Linked DNA regions of Homo sapiens: all the other regions are reported to be linked to region 3. The links are microRNA targets in miRTarBase. Many come from high-throughput screens and were not tested one by one. Region 3 holds a microRNA gene; each other region holds the end of a gene's coding sequence.
What was found. The annotated mature microRNA hsa-miR-557 reads GUUUGCACGGGUGGGCCUUGUCU and lies in region 3 at 1,316-1,338, shown strand. An mRNA with a match to its seed (bases 2 to 7 or 8) in the 3' UTR can be bound and repressed. Matches are read on the target gene's strand: a 7mer-m8 pairs with bases 2 to 8, a 7mer-A1 pairs with bases 2 to 7 and ends in A, and an 8mer does both.

Region 1 (4,368 bases), not on the chromosome of region 3:
TTAGGTATGATTTTCAAGTACTAATTTTGAATTTTGTGTGTAGCTTTTGGAATCCCTCATAGTAATACTGCTGTCTGTGTGCCCCAGTACCCTGGTTTTCACGATTTTAGGTGTATACCATACTTTTTTTTTTTTTTAAGACTCACTCTGTCGCCAAGGCTGGAGTACAGTGGCACGATCACAGCTCACTGCAGCCTCTGTCTCCTGGGCTTAAGTGATCCTCCCACTACACCAACTAATTTTTAAAAAAATTTTTTTACAGACAAAGTCTCACTGTGTTGCCTAGGCTGGCCTAGAAATCCTGTGCTCAAGCAGTCCTCCTGTCTCAGCGTCCAAAATTGCTTAGATTAAAGCATGGGCCACCTCGCCTGGCCTACCATACATTTTTGTTCATGTCCATTTCTTTTTCTTAGGGTTATAGTAAGAATAAGGAAGAAATCTTGCAGAGATGTAATGATGTGTTCTTGCTTTTTTCCAGCTGGCCAAAGTGAGGGAAAAAGTGAAGGATGTGCCTGCCCTTGTGGCCAAATTTGATGAGATCTATGGGACACTGCACATCACTGGCCAGGTCACCACTGATTCTTTGGATGCTGTGCTCTGCCACACCCCCAGGGACAGGAAATCTCACACGTTGCTATTAAACAAGAGGATGGTCAGCCGTCGCACCTTCCAGCCACTCAGCCAGTCCCTGTTGGCTGAGTAACCCTGGTTTCAGTCCACCTATGGATCTGAGGGGCCTGCTTCTAGTGAGTTATTACCTTTCCTAAGAAGCCAGGTATCGCACTTCAGCAGACAGTGTGCTGACACTTGGTCTTCTCCTGAAATTCCCAAATTCACTGAATGGTACCATGCCGATCTCTGAGAAGTTATGTTGCACCACTGTGAAGGTCTAGATGCAAGCTTGGCTCCCTCAGAAAGGCGCTTCCCTTTTGCATGGCTGAGGATCCTTGAAGGAACCTGGTCAGTCTCCGGTTCAGCTTCCGACACCAGAGTGGAACCCAGTAAGCACCATCAGGAATGAATTTCACTACAAGTGTGGATAACTCTGATTTTCAAAGGAGTAGTTACTTGCAAATTACATCCTTGCTGAATTCAGGAGGTATGAAACCCTATTTTACCATGTTAGAAAACAGCCCAGGATTTTCTCATTGCTCTGCCATCATATATGTCTATGACTTGAGCCCTTATTTTTCCATCTGCAAAACAATAATGCCTATGTGTCTTTGCATATAGATTTGAAATCTTCATTCAAGGTTTAGTAGGATCATATTTTCTCAAAAATAAGAGAAATAAGGTTCATAAGGAAACTTGCTGGGATTGTGGTTGTTTTGTTTTCTCAGCAGCACAAACAAAACCAGAATTTAGCCTTTAGGACTGCTGAGTAAGCCAAATTTAAATGACTACTGCTTTGTTCATGGGTAAGCCATGTGCTTTTCAAAATAAGTGCCACTAAAAACCACATAATGCTTTGGTTTCTATGTGGATAATAAATATTTAGTCCTATAGTTTATCTTATTTGTTAATGATTTTTCTCTCTTGAATGCCTCATATTAAAAAAAAATGTGCCATGAGAGCAGTTCAAAGCTGCTTCATACTTATGGTCTCAAATATAGTATGTGTTGAATTTTACCGTGTCTGGTCACCAGTGAGCAGAAGATACACAGTGACCCCACCTCACTTGCTCCTTTTGTTTCAGAAAGCCCAGAGGGTTGCTCAGACCTCAGGAGCTGTCTGCCAAGATTGCTGCAGACTCTTCATTGCCACCTCCAAAACTAAGACTGTTCACTTGGTTGTTGTTCTAAGGCAAGGATTATAGAGTCAGAAATTGTAGACTAGGAGAAGTCTTCTGAGTCTCCTAATTAATTCCTTCATCTTTCAGGTTAAGGAAACGATCCATGCAAGAGAGGCCCAATCTCAACTGTAGACTGTGTCCCAGTAAGAGAGTCACAGCTTCAGGTGTTTGCTGAATCCAGGTCTGAGATCACAATCCCACCTGAGGACAGGATCCGCATATGAGAGTCGCACATTGGTATAATTGATTTGTGGTAGAGCTGAGATTAGAATCCAGATTCCTAGTCTAGTATCCTTCCCACTGTACCACATTATCTCTTTTCAGAGGGGAAAAAGGAGCAGCTCTTAAGAAACAGAATACTAAGGGCCCCCATTACTGTGTGGCCCTGGGCATCCTCAGTTTCCTCATTTGGTAAATGGGGATAATGGTACCGACCTCTTAGGCTTGGTGTGAGGATGAAATGAGATAGGGAATATAAAGCAAGCAGATAGTGGCTGGCACATAGTACATGCAATATGTTTGAAACTAGTTAAGGAATTATAAAAACAAATGAGTTCTTCCTTCTGCTCAAAAATATTGAATTTCTTGTCCTTGTGCTCTGTGAAACATTGAACAGCCCCATTTAGAGAAACAAATTCTCTGCCCTCATAGAATCCTAATTGTTTCTGTATGTGTCTGGTGTTTTGCACATGCAAAAAAAAAAAAAAAAGTGCTTGGATTTCTCCACTTTCAGTCTTAGGGAATAATAGGGCATGCTTCCTGTCCCCCCAGCTTACTTTTCATCTTCTCCAACTCTCACAGTTCAAATGGCTCCAGTGCTGTGGGTGAGTGTGGCCTTGGTTGTTAGCTAACAACCATTCATTAGCGAAATAACCAAATTTTGTGAGCAGTAAATAGCAACAAGCTTCCCAATCCCTGCTGCCCAGCCGACTGGAAAAACTGGTCCATTCCACCTGTTCCCAGAAACCTCAGTACAGAGGTAGCTATATGCATAATGTTCACCCCAAAGTAATAGATGATTTTAAAGTCTTAAAAGTCCAATAAAACAGTGTTCAGTATAGGTTATGATAGGCATTTCATTCTTTAAAACTCAGTAATTCCTTTGAAAAAATGATGTTTCTTTATAAGCAGTAGTTTGCCTACATCATTTACTTGTTTTTTTCTGCTTTGGGGTTTTTTTTTTTTTGAGACACAATTTCACTCTGTCGCCCAGGCTGGAGTGCAGTGGTGTGATCTCAGCTCACTGCAACTTCTGCCTCCTGGGTTCAAGCAATTCTCATGCCCCAGCCTCCCAAGTAGCTGGGAATACAGTTGTGTGCCACCACACTGGCTTATTTTTTGTATTTTTTTAGTAGAGATGGGGTTTCACCATGTTGGCCAGGCTGGTCTCTAACTCTTATCCTCAAGTGATCTGCCTGCCTTGGCCTCCCAAAGTGCTGGGATTACAGGCATGAGCCACCGCACCTGGCCTACTTATCCTGTTAATGAAAATATTTGATTGGACAGAACATCTTATTCCTTAACTCTGTTATGTGCTTTTGTAGATTGTTTTTACTTACTGTAGATATCTGTTGCTCCAGAGTCCCAGAAATCAGTATGATGAGTTCAGCACAGTTACTAGAAGGAGACAAAAAGATATCTTCTTAATTAGGTGATATCAGGGATAGTTCTGGTTATTGATTGCTGTGTGGAAAACACTCCAAAACTCAGTGACTTTAAACAACACCAGTCATTGTGTTATTTCTCATTATCCTAAGTACTGACTGGGCTCAGCCAGACAGTTCTTATTCGGGTTCTCATGCAGTTATAGTCATCATCAGATTGTGGCCGCGACTGGCATAATCTCAAAGGCTTCCTTAGTATTTCTGGCAGTTGATGCTAGGACCTCAGCTAGTGCTGGGGCTGGAACATGTCTACACATAGCTTCCCCACAGCATGGTGGCTAGGTACTAGGAGTGACTGTCCCAAGAGGACCAGGCAGAAGCAGTTACATTTTATGACCTAGTCTCAGAAGTCTCATAACATCACTTCCACTAAAGTCCCAAGCCCCCCCAGATTCAAATGGAGGGAGCATATATCCCATCTCAGTGGTAGGAATTTCAAAGAATAAATTCTGTGAAACTGTAGTAGATAGTCTGTTTTCTCCCCTGTTTAAAACCTCCTGAGGACCTCACATGCTTCTGGATAAAGCTCAGGCTCTTCAACATGGTTTAGAAGGTCCTTCCTAATCTGGCCCACATTTGTCCATCCAGCTCCAACTCTTGCTACTCTACGCCCCTCTTCCCCTCTTGTGGAATGGCTAATTCCTACTCATCATTCAGGTCTTGGCTTAGACATCTTTTCATCTGAGAAGGCTTTCTGGTCTAGTCTCACCTGGTTAGGTGAACTCCCCATGTGCCCCATGTACCTCATTTATCAAAGTGCTTATCATATGCCTGTCACTGTCTGTTTTCTTCACTAGACTCAGGTGCCATGTCTGTCCTTTCTGCTCTGTTTGCTGGGTGCCTAGCATGGTAGGGGATGTATCAGAGGATTAGTACTTATTTAACTCACCAGCTCATTTAACTATATTGTAT
Region 2 (4,368 bases), not on the chromosome of region 3:
TCTTACTCTGTTGCCGAGGTTGGTCTCAACTCCTGGCTTCAAGTGATCTTCCTGCCTCCATCTCCCAAAGCGCTGGGATTACAGGCATGAGCTACTTTGCCCAGCCTACTGTGTATATTTTTAAGACCTTTTTTTTTTTGAAGACACAGTCACGCTCTGTTGCCCAGACTGGAGTGTAGTGGCATGATCATAGTTCACTGTAACCTTGAACTCCTGGCCTCAAGCAATCCTCAGCTCCCTTGGAGTTGGGACTACAGGTGTGCACTACCACACCCAGCTAATTTTTTAAATTTTTTGTAGAGACAGTCTCACTATGTTGCTCAGACTGGTCTCGAACTCCTGGGCTCAAGTGATCCTTCTGCCTTGGGCTCCCAAAGTGCTGGGACTGCAGATGTGAACCCCCATGTGCAGCCAAGACTTTATTCTTCTAGAGCAGTTTTAAGTTCACAACAAAATTGAGAGAAAGGTACAGAGAATTCCCGTATCTCCCTGTCCCCACATGTGCACAGCCTCCCCCGTGATCAACATGAGTTAATATTTTTCAGGAGCTTAAGATAGTGCCATGTAAGTGTAGGTCAGTAACTGCTTTTTGGTCACGACTGTATGACACAATCCACAGGCATGCCAGCCTGGGCTGGTGGGTAGGCTCGGTCTTGAAGAGGGAGGGGTTGTTCTCTGGAGGTGGGCTGACCCTGGCACCTGGCTGGCTGGTCCCCACAGGCTGGCAAAGGAGGAGGTGAGCCGGCAGGAGCTGAGGCAGCGGGTGCGCATGGCTGACAACGAGGTCATGGACGCCTTTCGCAAGATCATGGCTGCCCGGCAGAAGAAGCGGACTCCCACCAAGAAAGAAAAGGACCAGGCCTGGAAGACTCTGAAGGAGCGTGAGAGCATCCTGAAGCTGCTGGATGGGTAGCCCTCACCCCTGCCTCAGGCTGATTATCTGGCCTAGGGGAGGGGAAGGGAGGCCCACTTCCTTCTTTGGGCACAGGAAACATTGGCCTGTGGCTGTCCCTCAAATGGCGGCAGTCTCTAGAGGGCCGTGGCCCTTCCCCTGAGGTCTTTTGGCCTAGCTCTGTACAACCAGGACACAGGAAGCCCTGCTGGGCTAGCCTGAGGCCTAGTCTCTGCTTGGTCCCCGAGATGGGGTTGGAGGGGACTTCGTTTCTGGGTCTTCCTCTTCCCCTCTTTACCATCCCCCACTCCCTAATCCCCTACCCCTGTCTCCCCTTCAAGGACTTCTCCCTTGTGGTTTTGTAAAGTGCAAACTTAAGAATAAAGTGACTGCTGTGGTTTTTCAAAAAAAGCATCCAGTCTTTGAATGTCTGTTACAGTGGGGAGGAAGGAACCAGTGTGGGTGGTAAGGTTTGTGGGGGGTATGCTTGGTGGCTCTCAGCCCATGGCCACTAACCCATGGCATTCAGTCAGGGAGAACTTTCTGAGTACCTCTTTCTGAGGATACTTGTGGCTGCACGTAACAATGCCCCCCCAGCTCAAAGTGGATTCACAGTAAGGAAATGTGTTGGCTGCAGGATGGGCAGTCCTGGGACAGAGTGGCCTTCACGGTTAGCCAATCTAGCAATTCTTCAGGGTCATCAAGGGTCCAGGTTTCTTTTTTTTTTAATTTAAGTTCTAGGGTACATGTGTACAACGTGCAGGTTTGTTACATATGTATACATGTGCCATGTTGGTGTGCTGCACCCATTAACTCGTCATTTACATTAGGTATATCTCCTAATGCTTTCCCTCCCCCCTCCCCCAAGGGTCCAGGTTTCTTAGGGGTCACCACACTGCCCTCCACAGTGTCGACCTCTGCCTAAGGTGAGTCCTTCTCTGGCTGTAGTGTGGCAGTGGAGCAGTTGGGGCCAGATGCTTCCTCATTTACATCCAGCACAGGAGGGAGCCGGAGCCAGCGGGCTTCCATGGCCCATCTACAGAAGCAAGAAGCCTTTTCCCAGATACCATCATGTTTCAGTGGCCCAAACTCAGTCTCACATGCCCATTCCTCAGTCACTGTGGCAAAGGAGACTGTAATGGCTTTATGCCAGTCAGAGTGGAGTTTGCTACTCCATCAAGGTGGTGGAGAGAGAGTAAAACCCAACAAGATCTGAGTAGGAAACAGGGAAGTGAGTGCTAGATAGACCACCGACAACGTCTCTTCCACAGCTGGGGCAGGAAGCTTGGCCTAAGGGACACAGATGAATAAATATGCTCTGGTACCTGCCTCAAGTTGTTCCCAGACTGGTCTGAGAGAATCAGGGAATAATTTGCAATTTACTGTGGGAAGGTTGAGGTCCACGCAGGAGAGAAGGGAGGGTAAGATTCCCTAAGGAAGTGACCTATGAACTGAGCCATAAAGAAGGAGGGCGAACATGGCCAACATTCTCGTATACCCAGCACCTCTCTGTTGGAGAAATGTTCCTTCCCCATCACACATGGTTCTTGTCCAACTGCCAAACTAGGGTGCACACATGACCCCAGCTTGGCCAGTCAAGTGCCAATCCCTCTAGCCACAATGATTAGTCCCAGAAGCAGGCATGTAACCCAAGCTGGGTCACTCGAGGCCCTCCATAAGATTGCTCTGTGGATGCTGAGAGGAGAGTTCCACTTCTTGTTGGACCATAAGCCATAGACTATAAACTCAGTCTACCCCAGTGACCTGCTCTCCTCCCATGGGGAAAAACCTGCTTGAGAATAAAGCCAGCTCAGAAAAGCAGAGCCAGGAGATGGAGAAGTGCTGCATCCAGCTATTCTTGAAGCCACCGGATCCTCCCTTAGACTTCCCACATATATCAGCCCACAAAGGCTTCTTTTGGCTTAAACTAGTTTGCTTTAGAGTTTTGTGATTTGTAACTAAAAAAGGCCTATTACAAGTGAATTTTGGCAAAAAGAAAGATGAAGTAGGATCCTGAGAGAGAGGACAGCATGAGGCCCTGCCTCCCACTAGGTGCTGGGCCAAGCTGCTGCAATTTCTCAGTGACTCATTGTCCCCAGGTTGCTCACAGCCTTCTCAGAGAGAAAAGACACCCACACATGCAATGATGAGAAACCAACTCTAATCATAATGATAATGCAATGAAGGGCTCAGTAAATGTTAGTATGCACCAGGCATTGTTCTGAACTCATTCAACTACCTAATATTATGGGGTAGGTATCAGCTACCCCATAATAACATCCCATTTACAGATGAGGAAACTGAGGCTTAGGAGGTTACATACCTTGCTTTGTCAAGCAATTGAGTGGTTGAGCCAACATTCAAACTCAGGCCATTTGGCTTACAGAGAGAGCCTCTTCATTACAACTCACTGGGGCCCCACTCCCATTACAGTGTATGTGAATGGTACTCCCTATACTTGGGCAGTGCCCAACCTGTGCAGCCATATATGGCAGCTCTGCTTGAAGACCCCCCTCCTCTTAACCACTCACTTCCATGTTCACTGGGCCACACCATAAGTATGGTGGGCGTTGTTGGTAGAGAGTTCCAAGAACAGAGACAGTTTTGTGGAGGAGGTGGGATGAGAGCTGACATCCCAAAATTGGATGGAATTGTGAAAGAAGGAAGACAGATATAAATAGAAAGAAGAACCCTAGAAGACCGACTGGGCCTGGTTCACCAGAGAAGAAACTTAACTTTCAAGGATCAGTCATGAGCACTCTAGCTGTTCTCTGTTGCATACCTACTATCTGCCTGGCACTGTGCCAGGCCCTTTACCCACCCCTCCTATCTGATGCTTACCATGCACCTCCAAGGAGAGTAATATTCCAGCCTGCAGATGACACAGAGACTCAAAGAGATGCTGTGCCTTGCTGAGGCCATGCAGCCTTGATGCAGGAATAGTTGCTGCCCCCAGGTAGCACCATCCCTGGCAGAGTTCTTACAATCATATCAGTGTCTGCTGGAGCCAAAAGATGCCTCCTTTATGAGTGTGGAGGAAGCTGGGTTGTCATGAGGAGGGCGGATTAGTTCCAGTACCTCAAGTCTCCAAATTTAATTCAAAACAATTCTGATTCCTTATCACTAGTTTGGAGGCAAAGCCTTTTGTGTCTTGGCCCTAGAAAGCATCTGTCTTGCACATCATGGTCTCCCCAGAGTTCCAAATGCCTTACAGCTGACTTTCAGCAACACCAGGGTGAGTGAGAACGGGGAGGGTGAGCTCTGACCCACAGTGGGTCCCCAGCCCCTGTCTGCTCCTGAGTACTCTGGGCACCAAGTGCTCTGGGTCCCAGTTGGCTCCTGCTGAAAAGAAAGTGATGGCAGGAGCTTTGTGGAAATGTGGTCGGGGAGTAAATTTATTTCTTGGCCTGGGGCTCAGGACTCAATGGAAAGAACCAAGTCCAGTGGACTGTAACTCACTCGTTTAGGTATCAATA
Region 3 (4,368 bases):
AAGAGGAAACAGCAAGAACCACTGTCTTTAGAAAACCATTTGCTTTTCTCTTTGGAGGTGTTTGGTCAATTGGCTCTGAATTCTAAACCCTCCAGTCAGGTCAGGCCTGACTTTTAGTGCCCCTGTGTTTGGAGAAAATCCTGGGCTAAAATCCCCCAATAAGGCTGCTGCCTTGGGATCAGAGTCTCTGGGTGATCTCCCCTGGTACATAGCATCACCTAGGGATCTAATGCTTAGCAAGGACCTGAAGAAGCATTACTGGTTCATTATGGTTAGGACCTGTCAGAACAGAGCTGACGGCTGTCAAGGCCTCCAGGGCAAAGAAAAGAGCACATATCATACATGTTATTTTTCCATGTGCCCAGGCAGAAAGCTCACCTCCCCAGGAGGAAGCTGGGCTGGCAGAGGTCCTCATTGCTTGTGTGTGGCACCTCCTAACGTCAGATGATTGCTTTTGGTTCTGTTCTGCTAGAGATGTGGCAAGAGCTAAATTTTTAAACATTCCTAGTTTGCAAAGCTTGGGTACTGTGCCTGGTGGTTGCTGATAATGCAGGAGACATCCAGGCCAATTTTTACTAAGTGAATATGAACAAGAGAGGGCCCTGAACAGCAAGATCTCCACTGGGGGTCATCAGGAGGTAGGCTGCACACAGTGCCCAGCTGGCTTGTTAATCCAGCGCAATTTAACAACTGTCTGCCGAGTGCCTGTTGAAGGCCTGGGGCGGGAAGGTGAAAGGTAGGCCCACCTCAAGTTGCTCGTGGATAGCAAATTCTTCTTTGATAAAAGTGCTGAGAACTCAGCTTTATCATGTATAAAATGGAAGTATAGAAACCTAATGGTGTCCTTGGGAGAATTTAAAGGTACAATGCATGTAAAGTATGTTATACATGCCTAGCCCATAGTAGGTGCACATTATTTGTTGAAGGGATAAATGAATGAAAGTGAATCAAAGGAACAAATATGAGTCAAGCATGCATATTGTGCTGATAGGTAGTAAGTCTGAGCTAGTATTTTAACCCACTTCCAGGTGGGGGAAGGTGCAGGTTAATTTGGGATGGGCTGACCTATTACATAAGTCAGAGAGTGTGAAGGCTGAGAGCTGATGATCAGAAATGGGTCTCAGAGTGTTGGGTTGAGTTGGAGGCACACAGCCAAAGTGTTATCGGACCAAGGGGGCTTTGGGAGATTCTTGGGAGCCAGGGCCCAGCATTAGTGGTGATCAGAAAGGCAGGGCCAGATCAAGGGTGTGCAGACAGAATGGGCAAATGAACAGTAAATTTGGAGGCCTGGGGCCCTCCCTGCTGCTGGAGAAGTGTTTGCACGGGTGGGCCTTGTCTTTGAAAGGAGGTGGAGAAAGGAAGCTCCTTCTATGAGGCACTTAGATTCATTTCTATCTTCCTAGCCTGAGCACAGAGAAGTATTATATTAATACATACTGGTTTAAAGGTTGTTTCTCTTTCCACTGCTTCCACCAGTTTACAGCTTAGCCTAAGAGATAAGGGTGTAGACTGCGAGCCAGGTTCCTCTGTCTACCTCTGCTCTGCCTCTTACTAGGTGTGCAGTCTTACTAGGCAACCTCCTTCTGTCTCAGTTTTCTCATTTGTTAAATATGAATAATACCTCATAGGGCTGTTATAAGGATTGGATGAGTTACCATAAGTCAAATGCTGAGAATAGTCACTCATGCATTGTAATTTCTCCAGCAACTCTTAGGCATTATCATTACCTTCACCACTGAAATAAAGATCCATAGAACTCTGGCAGGTAACCAAGCAAGAGAGTCCTGATTGGGAGGAAGGACCTTTGGATCTCATCCTACAATGTTGTATCCTAATGCCTAGAGCCTGGCGCACAGTAGGTACTCAATAAAAATTTGTTATTGTTGAATTGTATAGAGTGGGGTTGCTGGTGCAGGGTAGGGAAGGAAGGACAGGACCCAGGGTCCTTTAGGCAATTGCCTGACTTCGGGAAAATGAGGCAGAAAATTGGTGAGGGTCTCCGGACTTGGGACCCAGGCACAGCTGGGATTCTGGGGCCACAGACTTGGGGACTGATCAGTGTGGGGAGCAGGAGAGGCAAGGGAGAGGGAAGAGTGAGAATGACTCTGACTGTGGCCAGCTCCATTCTTGGATAGGCAGAAATCTCGTGTTGAGTCTGTAATCAGCTCTTTAACTTGCATAGGATAGGAGTGTTGGGTCAATATTTCTGGTTATCAGGAGTCTTTTATGTAAAATGGAAATGATAATACCAAAAATATGTCCTGCTTTTCTAAGTCATATGTTTGTTAGTAAGTATCAAATAAGGCTATACCTGTGAAAGTGCTTAATCAACTGTAAATTACCATGGAAATATTATGACCAGTATAATTTTCTATCTCATTGAAACCTTGATTCCTTAGCATGTCTTCAACTTTTCTGTCTCTGGGATATTTGCATTTTCAGAGAGAGTCTAGAAAAAAAGCCTTAATTATGTCAACGGAATGAATGGTGAAGACTGAAATATCAGAAAGGTGCTTCTGTGCCAGAGAACTTTCTAATCCTGCACACGAGTACTATGATCGCTGGGAGAGAAGAGCCAGGGAAGAAGGTTTAATAAAAGGGTGGCTGCAAAATGCTTCTAATTTCCATTACTGCTAACCTCCACAATTCTGTCTGTCCTTCTTTTTTAATCTCACTAAGTTGTAAAGTGTCACAGAGGGTCAGGATGGGAACTCTGTCCGTGAGGCTAAGGTGAAGGCAGGAATTGGCCTTGGGGGACTTCTGTCCCCAGAGAGTACAATGCCTGTTGCTTTTAAATATCTCTTATAAATAAATTGAAAATATCATGTTGCAGTAATATTGAATCCACTTGTACACATGCAAAAATACCTCCAATGAACCCTCCAGGGAAATATTCCCCTTCAACTTCTTTCCTTGTGCATGTAAACCTCTTTTTTCAATATTGATCAATCTACGTACAGCAAATCATGTATAGCAGGAAGCAACCCCTTCTTTTTTGAAAGAGGGAGTGTCATTCTCTTTCCATTTGGAAGATGATTGGGAGAGATAAGTTTGATTCTTATTTCCCACAGTTTAGTGAGGAATGAGTGGAACAAACTAAGGAAGGTTTTAGTTAGGGAAGTAACACAGTTCTGTAGAGAAATCACCACCTAGTTGCATTTAAGGAGCTGTCAGCCTTGAAAGTTAAAAGAGTGGACTGGGCGCCGTGGCTCATGCCTGTAATCCCAGCATTTCGGAGGCCAAAGTGGGAAGATCGCTTGAGCCCAGGAGTTCAAGACCAGCCTGGGCAACATAGCAATACCCTATCATAAAAAAAAAAAAAAAGTTAAAAGAGTGAGTGAATTTCAAGTGCTTCCTGGCAGGTGAGGTATCCGCTGTTTATCCTCACACAGAAATGTTTTCTACCCTCCTTTTCATTGACTATCAGAGCTACCTGACCAGAAGAATTGCCCTTATGCATAATTTCCCTCTCAGCTCTCTTTCTCATGGATGTTGATTAGTTAATGCGTACATTTGCTTAAAGATATTAATTGAGCAGTATTTGATTTTATAGTATGGCTTTTAATAGTAGCAAAGTGTGTGGGTTCTGCTAAAAATTTACCCCCAAATGCAAAGTCTCTTTTCTCTTTGCACTCAATTTTAAGGAATTCCATTCAAACATTGGTAAGAGAATACATTACTGCGAAGATGCAACGATGAGGACGGGGCAGCAGAATGGGGACAATGTGGCTGGGGCATGGGGTCAAGTCCAAATGAAGAGGTCAAGCTATTGAGAAAACAATTGAGGGCAAGATTGAGAGAAGTGTGAAGGAAACAAAAGAAGGGGTGAGTTCCAGTGCATGTGTAGAAATGAGGATACAGACTCAGATGATGCTGCACTCACAAATTCTTGGTAGGGAGGGCATCTTGAACCTAAGCACAGCTTGTCCTAGGGTCTAGACATGAAGAATGAGAGAAGGGCCTGCTGGGGATCTTTCAGCATGAGGACATGCTTCTCAACCTCCTCCTGTTCATGGTCTACATAGAGAATGATCGCCATGGTATGCCACATTGAGGTAAACTGAGGGGCTGCTGTCTGCACAGGGGGTCTGGCTCTGCAGCTTTTGACCTTCAGTGCCAGCCCAGCAACCCTGGAGACTTCAGGGGAAGGATATCTCCTGGCACACCAGTGATCTATCTGCAGCATGCTTGTTGGAAAGCTCTGGTTTGGGGAACCTACTTGTCTTCCCCAAGGGAGAGAGAACTGAGCTACACAAGCTTTTTTTGAAGAAGGCAGGTGAATCACGAGGTCAGGAGATCCAGACCATTTTGGCCAACATGGTGAAACCCCGTCTGTACTAAAATTACAAAAATTAGCTGGGTGTGGTG
Region 4 (4,368 bases), not on the chromosome of region 3:
CCTGAATGTGATCCTGCAACTTGAAGACCTTTTGTACTTATTTGCTAGAACAAGAAGATCAGCAGCTCTTGTTGCTCCTAAAAACACTGCCTAATAAGCTGTCATCTTGGGAAGTTTCCCAGTCTGTTCAGCCTCTAAAAAGGCCTTTATCCATTTAAGAGGAAGCAGGAAGTTAGAATTCCAAGAAATGCAGGTTGGGAGGCCACAGTCCAGGTTCAAATCTAAGAAGGTAAAATTCTTAATCACTGGCAAATCCAAGTGGAACTTTATTCTATTGACAATCCACCACCTTCCCTCCTGTCATCTGATTGGCTTTGATGATAGATACTGTCTGAAGTTAGTGATGATCTCTAGAGAAAAGGAAAGTGTCCTGTTAACCTTGCTATGCACGGTGAAAAGGAGAAACGAGAAGGTTTTGGTTTCAAATGCAATGACCAACATCAAGGTCATCCCAGCACTTTCATGAGACCATCAGAAAACTCAATGTACATCAACTCTCTCCATTTAAAATTCTGCGTGTAAAGCCTTTGGGATTATAAATAAACTTTGGCACTGAGGGTGGTGACAGGCTTTGTCACATCCTATTCCAATCCAGATTTGAGTATTATTTGAGTGTTCAATCTCCTACCACTTGAGCCAAAGTTTGAGGATACTCATAATTCACAATTCAGCTATGTAACCCATCTTTTTTTTTTTTAAGATGGAGTTTTGCTGTTGTTGCCCAGGCTGGAGTGCAAAGGCATGATCTCGACTCACTGTAACCTCCGCCTCCTGGGTTCAAGGAATTCTCCTACCTCAGCCTCCCACGTAGCTGGGACTACAGGCACCCACCACTATGCCTGGCTAATTTTGTTTGTATTTTTAGTAGAGATGAGGTTTCACCATGTTGGCCAGATGGTCTCGAACTCCTGACCTCAGGTGATCTGTCCGCCTTGGCCTCCCAAAGCGCTGGGATTAGAGGAGTGAGCCACCGCACCTGGCCGATGTAACCCATCTTCAATGGTAGTCCCAAGACAAACACATGACCGTTAACTTGCTGATTTCTCCAACGGAAAATATCGAATTAGCCAATCCTTTCTATGCTGTAAGGGTTTTCCTAATTTTTTTAGAAAAAATAAATCAGTATAAAGAAAACACAATTTAAAATAAGGTCTTGCGATTGCTTTAAAGAAAGCTTTATTTACTACATACATCCTAAGAATGTACTGTAAATGGAGCAAGATCTAAATAAAAGCTTTTCAAATATAAAGCAGCTAAAGTTAACTAAACCACTAGCAATGTTTGAAAACAGAACTCTAAAACTTTTTTTTTACATTTATATAGTTTGTTCTTAACACTAAAAAAAAAAAAAGTTCACATTTCAAGTTATAAACTTACCTCAGTAGTGTACATGAAATGGTTTTGAAACAATAGGAACAGATAAGTCCCAGATAGGAGGCTCACTGATACTTAATTGGCCATGTCACCAATGTTTGTTTTTAAGGGAGTTTGGTGGTTGCCATGTTATCATTTTTTTTTATTCTTTCTTTCTTTTTCTTTCTTTCTTTCTTTCTTTCTTTCTTTCTTTCTTTCTTTCTTTCTTTCTTTCTTTCTTTTCTTTCTTTTCTTTCTTCCTCTTCTTCTTCTTTTTTGCAAATAATTTACAGGCATATGTAAAATACAGTAAGAATACTGGGTCATAGTTTCATCCAGTGAAACTCTGTGACAATCCTTCACTAGAAGGAGAGTACTTTTTTCACACAGTCAGGGGATGAGGATCTGATCCGAATTACATTTTGTCGAGTCACTCATTCCCACAGATTTGAGTTTGAATGCAGCTTGTGGGGTACATCATCAGGAACATTGCACAATTATTTTATGTCATTTAAAAGAATGATGGAAAGGAATGTTAGCGGTGCTTAAAGGCCTCAGTAGGCACTCAATAATTTTATAGAATAGTTAAATAAATATTGCTTACACATAAAAACTCATCTCATTTCAAGATGAGGGGGAAAAAGGCATTTGGGAATCTCTTAATTTAAAACAAAACAAAAGTACTTGCTAAGGGCATGATCCTCTTATGAATCCACAAGAATTCAGCCATCAACAAAAATCCCGTGAGTGGAAAATTGTATGGATCTCTAACATGACATAAAAACGCAACTGCGTTTTACTTGCTACCTTATTGCACACCTCACTTCCTTGATTGAGCCTTTAAAAAACAATTCCAAGTTGATATTTTTTTTTAAAAAGTAGATGACAATCTTAACATTTTACTGTATTTTACATTCACTCTGCTAAACAAAAGCCTTTAAACAGGCACAAAACACTGCAACAATACATTAACTTCCTAATAAAACAAACCTTTTTAATAACATTGAAATAAAATGGTTTCATTTTGCATTAAACTACATACCATGAACTTCTCCAACATAAAAGGACTAAAAACAAGCATTAGAAGATATTTACAAACTATCTTTAAACTTCTACAGGTCTCTCCTCCTCCTCCTGGATGTGCACACCCCAATCCAGTTCACCCATCAAGTGCACAGCAAAGGAAGAGAGGCCCATTTAATAAACATAATGTTTCCAACACCCTTGAGGACCATGGACAGTTTTGCAAGAAACATGGTAAGGCAACTAGAAGCATAACTTTCTGCTGAAAAGAGTCTCTGGGGGTCTTGTCTACGATAACATACATTCTTTGTCCCTACAAACTCATACTTCAAAAATGAATAAAAGCATTAGAAATGGCATTAAAGTTTTACATTGGGCAATTAAATAGCTATGCAAAGGTGTCTTATGCAACTCGATTAAAACCTTGTGCTTACTCTGCTACTGAAAATAGCACACGTAGAAGACAATACTTCCCCAACCAAACAAAAAAAAAAACAAAAAACAACGAAACAACAAACCCCAACAAAAACCCAGGAAGAAGTATAAAAGCCACCAGCTCCTCTATCAGAGCTACTTATCAGTCCTAGGCTTGCCAAACATTGCGGTGGGATTGGGAATCTGGGGAGGAGGGGACAGGGTGAGAGATGTGGGAGTGGGGGCATGTTTAAGGCTAAGGCACATGGAGAATGAGCCCCGGCTAACGGTGGCAAAGGAGAGCTTTCCAGTGTTTGGACTCAGAAGTGCGGCAAGTCTTTTCAATGTTGGCTTAAGGAGAGATCCAGTGTTTAATTTCTTTTAAAAAATAGTACCGCCATGATGATACATGGTAACACCATCAACCCTTAATGCCAGCAGAAATACAGAGGTTTTACTCATTTTAAAATTGCACTTTCCAGTATAACCTTTAAAATAATGCTTTATGTAGTATTTTTAAGCACTACTGTTTGTATCTTTAAATATTGTATATATTTTTCAAAATAGTTCCCTAGCTCCTCAAGTGTGCTTTTTTAATATATAGTTGATATATTATTGAAGGTACTACAAAATAGAAATCTCTGGAGTGCAGAAGTTAAGAAAATAACCTTCATACTGAAAATATATCCTTAAAAAAACAACAACAAAAACCTCTATACAAATGTAGTACAGCATACAAATTTTTAAAAGATGGAATGAAGGCACGAACCATTGCAAGTCTTTTGGAAATGTATGAACGTAGGCATGCTAAGTTGAAAATAGTCTTAAAAAACTAGTGAAAACTTCATGTATATAAAATAATTCAGAAATAAATCTGCTAACATTCTTCACTTTCAGGTTGCATGTGTGAATCCAACATGTTCCTTCTTCATAAATAGTCAAGCGTTCCTTCAGTGGTGTTTGTGTGGTCTGTCTTCGTGCTGGTCACCAGCCTCAGTATGTCTGGTAGACGTCGGGGATGGGGACCTGAATGGCAGCAGCAGGGAAGGCCTGAGGTATGTAGCCTGCGTATCCTCCATACATGGCGGCCGCGGCTGCCGCGTTCTTCTGTAGTGTGGCGATCGTGGCTGTAGCTGGAGCAGCAAATGGCACGTAACTGGCCCCGTAGATCCCGGCAGTAGGAATTCTCTGAACGTTTGGAGCCACCGTGTATACTGGAGTTATTGGGCGGCCCTGAGGAGAAGAGACAAAAAGGAGCCTTCCTGAACACGTGTATGTACCTATCATCCATTCATTCAACAAGCCTCTCCCAGAAGACGGGAATACAAAGACACAAAAGCAAGGGAGAGAAAGGCAGAGGGGCGGGCAAACAGCAATTATTGTAAGCAAGTGGGAGAAGAGCCACTGAAGAGGTAAGGTGGAGCTGCATCCTCAAACTCAGTGATGCCACCTTGTGAAAGTGAGAGGCCTGGAAGGCTGAGGGAAAGGTGAAATACAGTTGCCCCTCAGTATCCTCACAGGTGATTGGCTCTAGGACCTCCGTGGATACCAAAATCCTCAGATGCTCGAGTCCCTGAG
Region 5 (4,368 bases), not on the chromosome of region 3:
CAATAATATTCCATCATGTGGGTATGCCATTGGTGCCATGGTTTACTCAGGCTTTCTCGTGTATATGAACATGACTTTGCTTCCAATATTTGCAGTCTCAGTGCTGCAATGAGTAATCTTGTGCATCTGTATGTTTGTACTGTTGGAGGTGCATCTTCAAGGGAAATTCCCACAGTGGAAATGGTTGTGTCAAAGGGTAAATGCTTCTGCAATTTGTTAAGTACTGACAAATTCCCCTCCAGAAGTCATACCAGTTTGCATTCCTACCAACAGTGATGACAGTGTGTTTCCCTATAGCCTTGCCTAACAGAAATGTGTTGTTCTTTCTTTCACCAGTCTTAGAGATGATAAATGGTATCTCAGTATTATCTCAATTTACATTTCTCTAATGAGTTAGTTTGAATATTTCATTTTAAAGAGCCATTTTTATATCTTTACGTGAGTATGTTCATGTCTTTTCCCAGTTTTTCTATCAAGTTTTTGGTCCTTTGTCCCTTAATTTTTAATTCCTTATATAGTAAGAACACTAACTGTTTGTCTATTATATAGGCTGGATAAATTTTTCTCCCAGTCATTTGATTTTATTGTGTTTTTACTAAGCATTTTTATTATCTTCATGTAGTCAAATGTGTCAATATTTTGTTGCCACTGGATATTTCCACCACGTTTCCTTCTGTATTTATATGGCTTCATTTTCTTACATTTGGATCCTGGATCCAGATGGAGTTCATTCTTGCATATGGTGTGAAGTACAGGTCTAACTTCAACTTTCTCCAAGGGGCTTTCCAGTTGGCTCAGCACCATTTATTAAAGTCTGCTTTGACCTGCGATTGAAGATGCCACCTTTAACTCCTCATCCCCCACCCCTAAGAAACCTCACGGAACATATGACCCAAGAGCAGAGCAGACATAAAAAGATTAACTGAGCTACTGAGATTCGGTCAAGAATGTGAACTAAAAATGAACTGTTGAGAATAAGGCTGGAAGATCCAACAGAGGGAAACGGCTGTGGAGGTCATTGCCAGGTGAGGTGTCAGATCCCCGGCATTGGGAAGTGGTCAACTCGTGGGTTGGTAAAAAGAATTCACCAACAACAGTATAGGTTTGAAAAAGGAAAGGTATTAGAAGAATGCTGCAGAAGACTGCCATGGGGCACCTCGGTGAGAGGACTGAATGTACCACGGTGGATTTTTCCTTAGGGATATTTATGGACCTTAAAGCGGGACCGTGGGGTTGCAGTGAGTTTCAGCATGGCATTCCGGAGATGTACAGAAATTTTAGTTACTTCTAAGGTTTTTTTCGGGGAAAAGAAATCTGGAACCAGATGCCTGCTTTAGATAATAGGAAAGTCTAATTACTTTTAATTTTCCCCAAATAAGGCGTTTTGCCTCTGCATGGCCTGATAGTCACCAGGTGGTCTTTGCTCCCTTTTAAATTCCTCAGATAAAAAGATTTTGTCTCTGGGACCTGTTCAATGGTCACTAGGTGATTTTTGCTCTCCGCAGTCATGATGTGATGGAAAGCAAAATAGCAAACAAGGGAGCTGGATGGCGATGAAGCAGAGACAACAAGCAAGCTCAAGCTCCTGCAGAAGGGTCCGTCCCTGGAATCACCTCGGCTCACCTGTACCGTTCCAACAAACCCTTCCAACCAAAAGAGCCCCACCCCAAAAATGCTTTTGAAATCCTGAGATGTGATCAGTGAAATATGCAGCCAAGGCAAGGGGAAACTGTCCGCAAGTTAAAAAGATTTATTGCTATTCCAGGCTTCAAATGAGCCCAGAACTCAGGGCTGGTGTGTGTTTCAGAAGTTGTTATGATGTAACAGGGTGGTAGAAAAATCCAGGCAGTTTGATGTCGAGGCCACCCTCTCTTCCTTGGACCCCTGCTCCAAAAGCAGCTGCTGGTGAGGCTCTTTCCCATCTGCCTCATTCACCCAACAGGACTCCAAGACTGAGGCAGGCAGCCTTGTGATCCCCACAGCTCACAGGTGAGAGGCTGCTCATACCTCTCCTAGCACTGGAAGAGCCTTGTCCTTGGGACCGGACACTATGGCTTTGGCCCTGTGGAGGGAGAAACGGTGCCACAGGAGTTGTCTTAAGAGGACAAGGCATGCACGGTCTGAGATCAGAGGTTGTGACGTGGCCACCCATGAGCCAGTCCGTTTGGGACACATCACACTGCACAGCTTTTTAAAAAAATAATTAGCTGCCAATCTTTTAAAATGGTAAGATTTCATATACAAATCTGGATTTTTGGCTTCTCTAGGAGTAAACATTGAAACTTTTTTTTTGAGACAGAGTCTCACTCTGTCACCAGGCTGGAGTATTGCCAGTATCTGGCAGTTGTCTTCACAGACTGGCTATGCACTCTCCAACTGACTCCAGTCCTTGCCACCCTTAATTATATTTCCAACTGGAGACCAGGCCTCAGCAGCCTTGTATCAATGGGCACATGTGCTGTGACTTTCTGTGTAAGAAATATTTACATTGTAATAGCATCTTTAATCAAAAAGGAAAAATCGGCTGGGTGTAGTGGCTCATGCCTGTAATCCAGCGCTTTGCAAGGCCAAGGTGGACAGATCACGAGGTCAAGAGATCGAGACCATCCTGGCCAACATGGTGAAACCCCATCTCTACTAAAAATACACAAATTAGCCGGGCGTGGTGGCAGGGCCTGTAGTCCAAGCTACTTGGGAGGCTGAGGCAGGAGAATTGCTTGAACCCAGGAGGCGGAGGTTGCAGTGAGGTGAGATTGCACCACTGCACTCCAGCCTGGTGACAAAGTGAGATTCTGTCTCAAAAAAAAAAAAAGCGAAAAATCGAAATCAAGCCTGGAAGCAACATGTTTCTCACGGTTCTTATCAGTCATTTAAGTCTCTTGCTAGGCCCTGCGGGTACCTGAGTTTGTAAACAACAGAGCACTCCTAATATCTCCCCCAAGGGATTCCTCCCCCACACACCCTACCTCTCCAGGATACACTGCACCCTAGTATTAATTGGGCAAATCTAGAAAGGAAATAAAAATTAGTCACAGAAGTTAAGGGAGGAATAGACTAAGAGCAAATACTTTTGCCCCTTCATTGTAACAGGGGGCCGGAGGAGAACAAAAACGTTAATACTCTCACTTCGCTTTTAACTTAGTGACAAAAAAAAAAAAGAGTGAAAGAGAGAGAGTCATAAAGATTCTTCAGGTCCTAAAACACTCTGGTTCCCATTCCTTAACTGCTTTGGAAATGAACGAGGCTCTTTAGAGAGAATGTTAACGGGGATGAGTAACGTGGTCAGCCCAGCAGATGCCCTGGGCTATCAAGAACTGTCCAACTCATTCTCCCTTAGGTCAGGGCTGCTTGCCCCAGCCTAAAATGTAAGTGGTACAAAATGATTTTCAGTGAGGGTAGTGGACTCACTGTAGAAAGGGGATTAAAGGGGGGCAGAGAGTGGGAGTTTGGCCTTGGCAAACACAAAACAGAGGAAAAGGGACCTTCCTCACACCGCTCCATTCTGCTGTGGCAGATGCCATGTTATATGCCCTTTAGAGAGGCAGCGATCTTGATGCAGCCCAGACGCTTCCCACTGCTGCTCAGGACGCTCTCTATGCGGTAGTTCCCGGTGGTGAGCCAACTGGGCAGCTCCAGGTCAGGCACAACGAATTCGCTCTTGGGCAGTGAGTAGGTTCCCTGCGGGAAAGCCAGTGGACCGCCAGTCAGTGGGAGCCTACTGATGGGGTCTTTCTCCTAGAGCCACTGCTAGGATTGCAGCCATGAACTACCACCCCTCTTCCCATTCTCAAAACAGCCGCACAAGATGAGAGACGGCCATAGCACTGTAGAGCATGGATTATTATGGATAAAGGGCCCTGAAGATCACATCTAAGTTCAAGTCTCCCATTTCGTAGATGGATAACTGAGGCTCCCGGAAGATAAGTGATTCCTGATAGGTCACACTGGCTTACAAATCCAGAGACATGCAGATCTGCAGAAGGAGAATGCAAAGACCCTTCTCTCCAAACCCCATCTCTTTAGCCACAGGGGTAACGCTCTCTCCTCCCTAAGTACTTACTTCTTTGAAGGGACAGTGGCAAGGAAGCCCATAGGTACGCAGGGGCTCTGGGCAGGGCTCCCCAGTAGGAATTAACATGTCAAGCACATCACAGAAGTGTTCAAAGGTACAGCTGCCAATGTAGTCTGTGCATGGGATCTTGATCCAGAGGCCAGCCACCTCCTTCTCCAAAACTAAATCCACCTGGTAAAAAAAAATAAAACAAAGGTTTGAAAAAGGTTATAAGTGTAAATTCCAGGGCAAACATACCAGCTCTTCTGTCTTCAAAAAAGCAGCAATATATTTTAATCATAGAATTTTTAACTGGA
Region 6 (4,336 bases), not on the chromosome of region 3:
ACTCAATTCAAAATTAAACACTCTGGATTTCAACAGTAATAAGCTCCTGTAATTACCTGTTGGAAATGCATTACAGATGATCAGGAGGCTATCTGAAAAGTTGTCTTCTCCAGGACCATTTTAAAAATAAATTGATAATGTGTGTTGCTCTAGCTTTTCAAAAGAATAGTTGAGTTCTTCAAATAGCTACCGCTTACAATGCAACCACAGGTGATCTGGTTACATTTATGTTAAGAGTGATTAAAAACTTTCTTCCAACCTTTCTGTCAGATAACCAAAATAACCCCTTATAATTTAAAATTAATTAAACCTCATGGCTACCTAATTTAAAGTACTAAGTAAGATCATGTTGCCTCCAATAAAGAAATCATTCACATTATAAAAATATGATTCTTTCCTTTAGATAAATTTATCTTTAAGGTATTCTAAAATGTGATTACCATCCTAGGCAATACGACAGGACCCTGTCTCTACAAAAAAAAATTTTTAAGTTAGCCAGGCATAGTAGTATGCACTTGTGTCCCAGCTATTCAGGAGGCTGAGGTGGGAGGATGGCTTGAGTCCAGGAGTTAGAGGCTGCAGGGAGCTGTGATCACCACTGCACTCCAGCCTGAGTGACAGTCGAGGCTCTGTTTCCAAAAAAAAAAAAAAAAAAAAGTGATTGACTGTACTTAAGTTAATTATATTTACATTAGATTTCCTGTTTACTTAGTACTGAATAAAATGTAATCTACAGTCTGTGTTACACAGATGGATGTATAGAACCAATTTATAAGGACTTTTTTTTAAAATTATACTGAATTTTTATATATATATCACAATAAGAATTGAGGTTAGGATTATGGTTTTTTTACTAACATGAATATAATATCATCACCTAGTTGCCTTCGTTTAGTTCAGTACAATTACTGCACATCATTTATATATCTTTGTTGAATATGTTTCCACTAACTTCTTTTTTTTTATAATTTTTTGTCTTTAGGAATAAGTTTGTGGAGTTTGACATGAAGCCAGTCTGTAAGAAGTGCTATGAGAAATTTCCATTGGAGCTGAAGAAAAGACTTAAGAAACTAGCTGAGACCTTAGGAAGGAAATAAGTTCCTTTATTTTTTCTTTTCTATGCAAGATAAGAGATTACCAACATTACTTGTCTTGATCTACCCATATTTAAAGCTATATCTCAAAGCAGTTGAGAGAAGAGGACCTATATGAATGGTTTTATGTCATTTTTTTAATTAAAAAAGAAAAATTCATATAATCGTGTTTAAAACACAAATGAAGTCAGTATTTGCCTTTGTTAACCCTTATCCATTTGTTGACATGTAGACTGTTTACAAAAAAAAAACACATGGTTAAATGTTAAATTTTAATTAAGGCCCCCAAAAATTAAATATAACTTTTTAAAATGAAAGGAGTCACCTTTTACATGACTCAGGTGAAAAAACAGTATAAACATTAATTTACTTTGTGTTCAAAAGAAAATTCCAACTGCTGTTGGGGAAGGACACAGAAAAGAAAAATAACCACCCAAGAAAAACAAAAACAAGAAAAACAAATCTTATACAATCTTAGTATATTTATCAAACTAGTAGCTAGAAAGTGAATATGCACATTACTAAGACAAAAAACAAGTGTAATTCAGAACTACTTGATTTTTTTTAGTTAAATGCAATAATTATTATGCTTAGTTTTATAACCTGCTCTCCTTGTGAATTCTTCCTTCAAATGATTACTTAACGCAGTAGTAATAGCTAGCTGTAGGATGTCCTTTAAATTTTTGTGCAAAAAAAAATTTATACCAGGTATTTGGAAATATACTTTACAATATTGGAAAATGAAGTATTTTTAATGTATTACAGCAATTATGTTTCTAAGCTTAATGTTAAGCATGTAGTCTTAGAATAGGACATGAAATTAAATTGTATGTAGCTTGGAATATATTGCTTCAGAAAACTGAATGTGTATGTCGGTCATATTGCCTTTATAACCATGCTAATATCTATGCTTTATACATACTCAAACTTGCCTTGCCTTAAAAACATACATACTACATACTTAAATCAGGAATTCTAGCCATCTCACAGAATACCAACTAAAACTAAGTGCATTGAGATCTGAGATTGGTAAACCCAGATTCATTTACCACAGCTGTAATTAAGTTTTTAGAAACTATTCTCTTTTTGGGGAAATCCATTGAAGTTAATTTCTGTTATCTTATTAGAAGAAAATGATGTTGATATGTGTTTCAGATTTTCCATTTGAAATCTTATAATTAATTTGATTTATTTACTGTAAGTAGGAGGTATAAATGACACTCTTAAATTGGAAGGAGGGGTGTTTTAGTGTCTGTTTTAGGTCAAAATTAGTGATTCTATTTTTATCAAAAGTTTTATCCTGAAGTTTCAGGACCACTCTTCCTTAATAAACTTGTTAATGGAAAGCGAGCTTTATGAACATTTAAAAATGTTGCTGCTGCTTTGTTGCTTAAAAAGAAAGTTGCCAAGAGAGACTTCTTAGGGAAAATATTTGGGTTTTTTTTCCAAAAATTGCTGAAATATTGTTTTGCCATTTTTAAAAAGTCTCAGGTTATTACCACTCTGCCATTAAATATTTGTATGCCTGCATTTTTAAAAATTCTGTGCATGTACTTTATGGAGTACATTCTATTTTTGTTTTCAGATACCCTACAACCAATTTTTTTTAGTAATCTTTTAGAATTGAAATTATCATAAATGATCGAGAATAATCATCACATAGTTTAAGATTGTATATGTTGAGTAGTTTAAAACAATCTTTGCATTTTACAGTAAGAATCAAAGTCCCTTCAGTGTGCCTTTGTCAGCTAATATGTGACCAGCAATGACAACCTTGGGAGTATTTATTAAATATTATGCTATGAATATAGGCAACACAGAACAGGGTTTGCAGTATAGCGTCTTGATGCTAAATTCTCATATACCTCTACACGAGAAATATGGAGGAGAAAAACAAGCATTTACATATATTCTTCGTCACTTTGAAGATGCATGGCCTGAACTCGACTGCTTGTGTTTGTTTACATATCAGGCATACCCAGGCATCTCCTGCAGCCAGAGGTTCCATTGCTGTCTTTGCTCAGTCCTCTTTTAAAATATGAATTAGTGGACAGGCACGGTGCCTCACACCTGTAATCCCAGCACTTTGGGAGGTCGAGGCAGGTGGATCACGAGGTCAGGAGATCAAGACCATCCTGGCTACCACTGAAACCCCATCTCTACTACAAAAAAATTAGCCGGGCGTGGTGGCGGGCACCTGCAGTCCCAGCTACTCGGGAGGCTGAGGCAGGAGAATGGTGGGAACCCGGGAGGCAGAGCTTGCAGTGAGCCAAGATCACGCCACTGCACTCCAGCCTGGGCAACAGAGCAAGACTCTGTCTCAAAAAAAATAAATAAATAAATTATGAATGAGTATTTTCTAGAAATTCAACTTGCTAAGCCTGTAATACTTAAGGGTAGTTTATCTAGATACAGTACTTTCTTCCCTGATAAGTAGTATCATTGGAGCCCTTAGGTATAGGAGAAGAGGAAGAAGTTTAAAAAGTGTAAGTGGGCCGGGCGTGGTGGCTCATGCCTGTAATCCCAGCACTTTGGGAGGCCGAGGGGGGCGGATCACGAGGTCAGGAGATCCAGACTATCCTGGCTAACAAGGTGAAACCCCGTCTCTACTAAAAATACAAAAAAAAACATTAGCCAGGCGTGGTGGCGGGCGCTTGTAGTCCCAGCTACTCGGGAGGCTGAGGTAGGAGAATGGCTTGAACCCAGGAGGCGGAGCTTGCAGTGAGCCGAGATTGCACCACTGCACTCCAGCCTGGGCGACAGAGCAAGACTCCGTCTCAAAAAAAAAAAAAAAGTGTAAGTGGATTAAAAGAGAAACTTGGTCTAGTTCATAATATTTTTAATAGGGCTTTCCCTGGCTGCTGGAAAACTTAGGCCAGTAAGCATCTCTTTGTTTAAAGTCCTACAAGACAATTTGAAATAATTCATTGTTCATGCCAAAATTCTAAGTACTGTTTTTCTTAGCAAGTGTAACATAATCAGGAACAATGGGTACAAGTAAAACATTCTTTGGATGATATTCAAAGCCTTATTAGCACTGCACCTGAATAATAGGTCATTTTGCCTCACTCATTTGCCAAAGTAGCCATTTCTAAGTTAAGGAAGTTTTTAGATAGGCTCATAGCCTTGTATTTCGTTTTAGATTGTAAGCTCAATGGCAGGGATACTATATTGGTAATTATGTTTTCATATAGCAACCACCACAGTATATTCTTGGTGCTTAATAAATGTTTATAATTGTT
Region 7 (4,368 bases), not on the chromosome of region 3:
ATAAGTTGAGCATCCCTAATCGAAAAATCTGAAATTCTTTGAGTGTGGACAAGACGCACAAAGGTCATGCTCATAGGAGCATTTTGAATCTCAGATTTTCAGATTGGGGTGCTCAATTGGAATGTATATGCAAACATCCCAAAATCTGAAAAAAAAAAAAAAAAAATCTGAAATCCCAAACACTTCTGACTCCAGGCATTTCCGGATAAGGGATATTCAACCTGTACTTCAAGGTGGTGTTTGCCTTTGTGGTGTGGTGTGCTGTACATTAAGAGGTTTCTCATCCAGAAAGGGGACTGGAAATTTGATGATGGAAATTTGAGGCATGTACCAAAACACATTAGGCTGGTTCCCAAAGGAAATAACAAAAGCAAAGGAAGCATGCGGAGGTGTCTCTTTCTGCTGAATCATTTAAGATAATTTTGCTCCTCAGGCAGAAACAAGAAAGATGTGTCATTCTGCACAACCGTTCCCTTGGGAGATTGAGGAGCATAATTTAAGAGGGAGGCATCAGCCTCTCAAAGGGCTCAGCTTCATGCGATATGTGGGATGGGACTCTGATGATTGCTTCCTGTTGCGGAGATTCAGGGAGACCCCAGCCCTAGCCAGCTGCATTTGGCCAAAGGAGCTGGAAGTCTCAACACAATGCCTTCCAGGTGCTGACCTCAAAAGATCCCACATTTACACCAAACTGAGGGACACCTTTCTGTTTTCTCTACCAGGCACCGCCTAGAATCCTTCGATCTCGCTTCAGGAAGAAAAGTACCTCATCCTCGGCCACCGAAACCACGTGAGTGAGATGAGCCAACAGCACCGGATCCACAGAATGTTTCTTCTCTGCCTTAAAGAGCTATTCACTAATAACATAGAAATCCGCAAGCTGGGTGTGCTTTGAGTGTGCAGCCTCACAAACATGGCCTTTTCTCTCTCCCCTTCCACTTTTAAGGATTTATTTTTTTCCCCCTTTTCTTTATTTTGCTGGGGAGAGGCTAAAGGGAAAGGTAGTAGGGGCGGGGGTGGTGACCTTTAAGTCTTCTGAGGTTGGTAATTTTCCACAATTGGATTGTCATTATAGACAGCAGTGTGTTTTTTAGAAAGATAAGAGAATCACCCCTATGCTGCTGAGATGTACATTTGTAATTTATCTGTTGCATACTTAGTTTTTAGTCCTGTAAATGCAAACACAGCATTTTTTACAACTTTCTTTGTTCTTGGTACTTATACTTTGAACTATGATGTACATATTTATGGCTTTTGGCTTTTAATATAATGGACTTGCAAGGGCTGCCAGAGGTTCTGATATGTAAGAAAACTGCAAAAACAAATATAGACAAATATTTTGATTCTAGAGAACGTCTCAGATGTGCTTATAAAGCTTCCAAATACAACTCCAGTAAGACATCCCTTTCCCTGCAGGAGTGTGGTCTATATTCTTTAGATAGTTGTTTAGTCAAAAGACCAGACAAGTTACAAACTAAGAGAAACAATATTTCACAACACAGTAAAGTGTGATGAGAGGTCAGGGGAACATCCCAGTAAAAGAGAAGAGTCACAGGAAGCTCATCTCCTCCCTGGATTCTGGATTAGGAGCTTCTGAATCTTTTCCAGGGATAGGCAGGTAGCTCACTCTTGGTGCAATTTCTTGAGGATGGGAACATGTAGAGCTGCTGGAAGGAGTAATTCTGTGCTTGACAAAGGACGATTTCTCCTTTATCGTGACCAGTGCTGCCGATTTCCTGACAGAGGAGCTTACACTCTGAGCACCTTGTTTTAGCGAACTCTAGCAAAACTTGTTTAGCTTAGCAAAAACAAACACACAAAAAACTGAGAACTCTGCTGTTTCAGATATGCCATAACATACATCTGAAACACATGTGTAACAATCAAAATGGTGGGCTCTAGAATGGTTTTGGAGCTCGAGATCTTCATGGGTTAGACTTGCTGGTCAGACCCAGGAGCACCTGTGGCTCACACCTTCTGTTCCCCTCCTGGCCTGTGCAGAATGTAAACAGCAGACTCATACTCAATGGGCACTACAGGCCTTATCAGACGTTTTATACAAGCCTGGATTGCTTAGTAGGGGAATAAGGCATTCTCTGAGGGGGCTTTCCACTTAGATTGAGAATTTTATTTGAAAAGAATCTGGTTTAAATGGCATTGTGGTCCGAGGTAGCTGCTCTCCCCACTGAGAGCTGAGCCGAAATATAAGAATAATATATTTGTGCTTCGAGTTGGTGTTTCTTTCAGTGTAATGCATGCAGTGGTCACAACCCAGTTACTCATAATATTTGGATTGTATTTGTTCGTAGATATGCCCAGAAGACTAGAGAATTAGTGTTATATACCATATAGAACTTACTGTCAGTCAACTATAAACAGGCCCAATTAAAAACTGTTCCATTACTACGCAAACACATATTAGAGGCCTTTGCTGATGACACATTAGCTGGATCTTAGCCACCCCAGAAAGGGTTTGATTTGAAGCTGATTGTTGCCAGATATGCATATTGGAATCCCATCTACCCATAGTTCCTCTGAAGGTGATTTTGTAATTTGCAAAAGGGTATAGGAAAATATACCTAAAAGCGAATTTGTGGCTGAGAGGATAAACAGAAGCTGTTTGCTCATGTTCTGTGCCCCACACCCACCAATACCTAAATCTGTTAAGGAAGACAGAAAATGTTTTCTTTGTGCTCATTGAGTAGTTCCAGACAGAAGAAGAATATACTCTTTAAAATGTATTTACCTGTTAGTTGGAAGTACCCAGAATTATCAGAAACGAATGCAAAAAAAAAAAAAAAAAAAAAAAGCTTACACAGCTTCTTAGCAATTTTTTTTTTTTTGCCGAAACAATAAATTGCCTTTAGCAGCAGTTTAAAATCCTATCGTGAACAACCTATATTTTCGCCATTTTACAATGGAGAGTTGTGACAAGTACAGGTTATCAAGTTTGCACTTAACTATGCCAAAAAAAGTTTGAAGCGCTCTATTCTCAGACATGCTGTATTATTACTTCTCATTCAAGATTGAAAAATATAAAGGTATCCAAACTCTGTCTTAATGTAAATGTAACTATTTTTCCTTCAAGTGTTGACTAGGGAGTCGGTTTCTCTCTTAAAGACACTCACTGTACAACTGAAAGCAGCTGTCATATTTCTGGCAAAATGTGTTTACGTATCTGACAAGTTGTACATTTGTGTATGAACTGACATAAAATGTGAAAGCCTGTAAGTGTACATGTAGTGGTGTGGTGTTCTGTCTAGAGGATACAACTGAATGTTTTTAATTTGCTGACTTACAGACACAGGCTGTTTACAAAATGCTAGCTGGAAAGTCTGTAATGTTCATGTCATAACTTTTAGTTAATTGCCATTGAGCACCTGTTCTGAGGAGGTGAGATGTGGACTTGTGCTTATAAACTGGAGAGTTTAGTCATAATCCCTCCTGGCTTTGTGTGAATAGCTTGCTCACTTTGCTGGCCTTTGAAATGTGTTCTCCGTGATAAGCTATCCATGTGTTTGTGATAAGAGTGCTTGTCAACCATGACCATCTTTGAGCCTTCCTAGTCCTCCACCTGGCACAGTATTTGAAATGGCAAAGGATGTGCTTCATCCTCTAACAGTGTACACTCCCAGAGCTGATATTCTGGATTTTGACTGTGCACATTTCCTCTAGTTCATGTCTGTAGTCCCTATAGAATGATCTGTAATAAAATAGTATACTGGACTGTGCATCAAAGGGATGTAAAATTACAGTATTCCAAAGGTTGAAGTTCTGCTGTTTTGTTATAATGCCTGATACACATCTTGAATAAAGTCTTAACATTTTTCTTTTAAAAAACATCTTTGTAATGTTGGGCTTAAAAGGAAACAGGAAATACTTTTTTTCAAATATGGGAGGTAGCAAGGATTAGAAGCTGAGTGTTCAGCCACCGACTGGCCTGGTGACTTGGCCCCGTGCCTGTTGCATAGGATGTTGAGAGGGAAAGAAAACCAGATGATATAAATGTTTTGAAAACCAGTTCATCACACAACTACAAACCTGAAAGTATCACTGTTTATTTCACATTTAAAAAAATCATCGGCAGAAACTAGGTAGCTGTGAAAATAGAATAGTCCACTGGTAGAGTTTCAATTGTGCAAACAGACGTTTGGTCCATCATTTTTCTTCTCTGAACATTTCTTCATCTGCAAATGGGGGAGTGCCTGTGCAGGTGACAACAGGGTGGTGAAGGGCCACCCTTAAACCTGCTGCAGCCCTTACCTTTCACATCTGAACAGGCAGACTCAAACTTCATTGGGTGGCCACAAAGACTTGGAAGCTCAAAATTTGAAACATCAAAATTAAACACAGACCCAATTTCTTTGC

Region 1: the mRNA of PTCD2 is a reported target of hsa-miR-557. Seed matches in the 3' UTR shown: 7mer-A1 at 1,198-1,204 and 7mer-A1 at 2,483-2,489.
Region 2: miRTarBase lists TADA3 as a target of hsa-miR-557. Seed matches in the 3' UTR shown: 7mer-m8 at 1,259-1,265.
Region 4: miRTarBase lists RBM47 as a target of hsa-miR-557. Seed matches in the 3' UTR shown: 7mer-A1 at 2,595-2,601, 7mer-A1 at 2,376-2,382 and 7mer-A1 at 1,628-1,634.
Region 5: the mRNA of GM2A is a reported target of hsa-miR-557. The part of its 3' UTR that is shown has no 7-base or 8-base seed match.
Region 6: miRTarBase lists LIMS1 as a target of hsa-miR-557. Seed matches in the 3' UTR shown: 8mer at 1,780-1,787.
Region 7: the mRNA of REEP1 is a reported target of hsa-miR-557. Seed matches in the 3' UTR shown: 7mer-A1 at 1,314-1,320, 7mer-A1 at 2,555-2,561 and 7mer-A1 at 2,784-2,790.

What each region holds. Positions count from the first base shown.
Region 1 is chr5:72,357,725-72,362,092 of GRCh38, forward strand. It overlaps PTCD2 (pentatricopeptide repeat domain 2), which reads left to right. Exons shown (of 10, transcript NM_024754.5): 10 at 479-4,368. The coding sequence ends at 703. Among named protein-coding and RNA genes, the nearest start is that of PTCD2, 40 kb to the left of the region's middle.
Region 2 is chr3:9,776,902-9,781,269 of GRCh38, reverse strand. It overlaps TADA3 (transcriptional adaptor 3), which reads left to right. Exons shown (of 9, transcript NM_006354.5): 9 at 721-1,303. The coding sequence ends at 913. It also overlaps a transcript of OGG1 not described here. Among named protein-coding and RNA genes, the nearest start is that of CAMK1, 9.1 kb to the right of the region's middle. RefSeq lists an enhancer at 2,831-3,125.
Region 3 is chr1:168,374,269-168,378,636 of GRCh38, forward strand. It overlaps MIR557 (microRNA 557), which reads left to right and starts at 1,256; the gene lies at 1,256-1,353.
Region 4 is chr4:40,422,121-40,426,488 of GRCh38, forward strand. It overlaps RBM47 (RNA binding motif protein 47), which reads right to left. Exons shown (of 7, transcript NM_001098634.2): 7 at 1,160-4,023. The coding sequence ends at 3,784. It overlaps RBM47-AS1 (RBM47 antisense RNA 1), which reads left to right and starts at 4,013. Exons shown (of 2, transcript NR_199039.1): 1 at 4,013-4,062. RefSeq lists an enhancer at 3,302-4,368.
Region 5 is chr5:151,266,606-151,270,973 of GRCh38, reverse strand. GM2A (ganglioside GM2 activator) reads right to left here. Exons shown (of 4, transcript NM_000405.5): 3 at 4,061-4,243; 4 at 534-3,678. The coding sequence ends at 3,523. Among named protein-coding and RNA genes, the nearest start is that of GM2A, 16 kb to the right of the region's middle.
Region 6 is chr2:108,682,903-108,687,238 of GRCh38, forward strand. It overlaps LIMS1 (LIM zinc finger domain containing 1), which reads left to right. Exons shown (of 10, transcript NM_001193483.3): 10 at 983-4,336. The coding sequence ends at 1,097. Among named protein-coding and RNA genes, the nearest start is that of LIMS1-AS1, 6.5 kb to the left of the region's middle.
Region 7 is chr2:86,213,465-86,217,832 of GRCh38, reverse strand. It overlaps REEP1 (receptor accessory protein 1), which reads left to right. Exons shown (of 9, transcript NM_001371279.1): 9 at 723-3,840. The coding sequence ends at 794. MRPL35 (mitochondrial ribosomal protein L35) reads right to left here. Exons shown (of 4, transcript NM_016622.4): 4 at 4,043-4,368. Among named protein-coding and RNA genes, the nearest start is that of MRPL35, 16 kb to the right of the region's middle.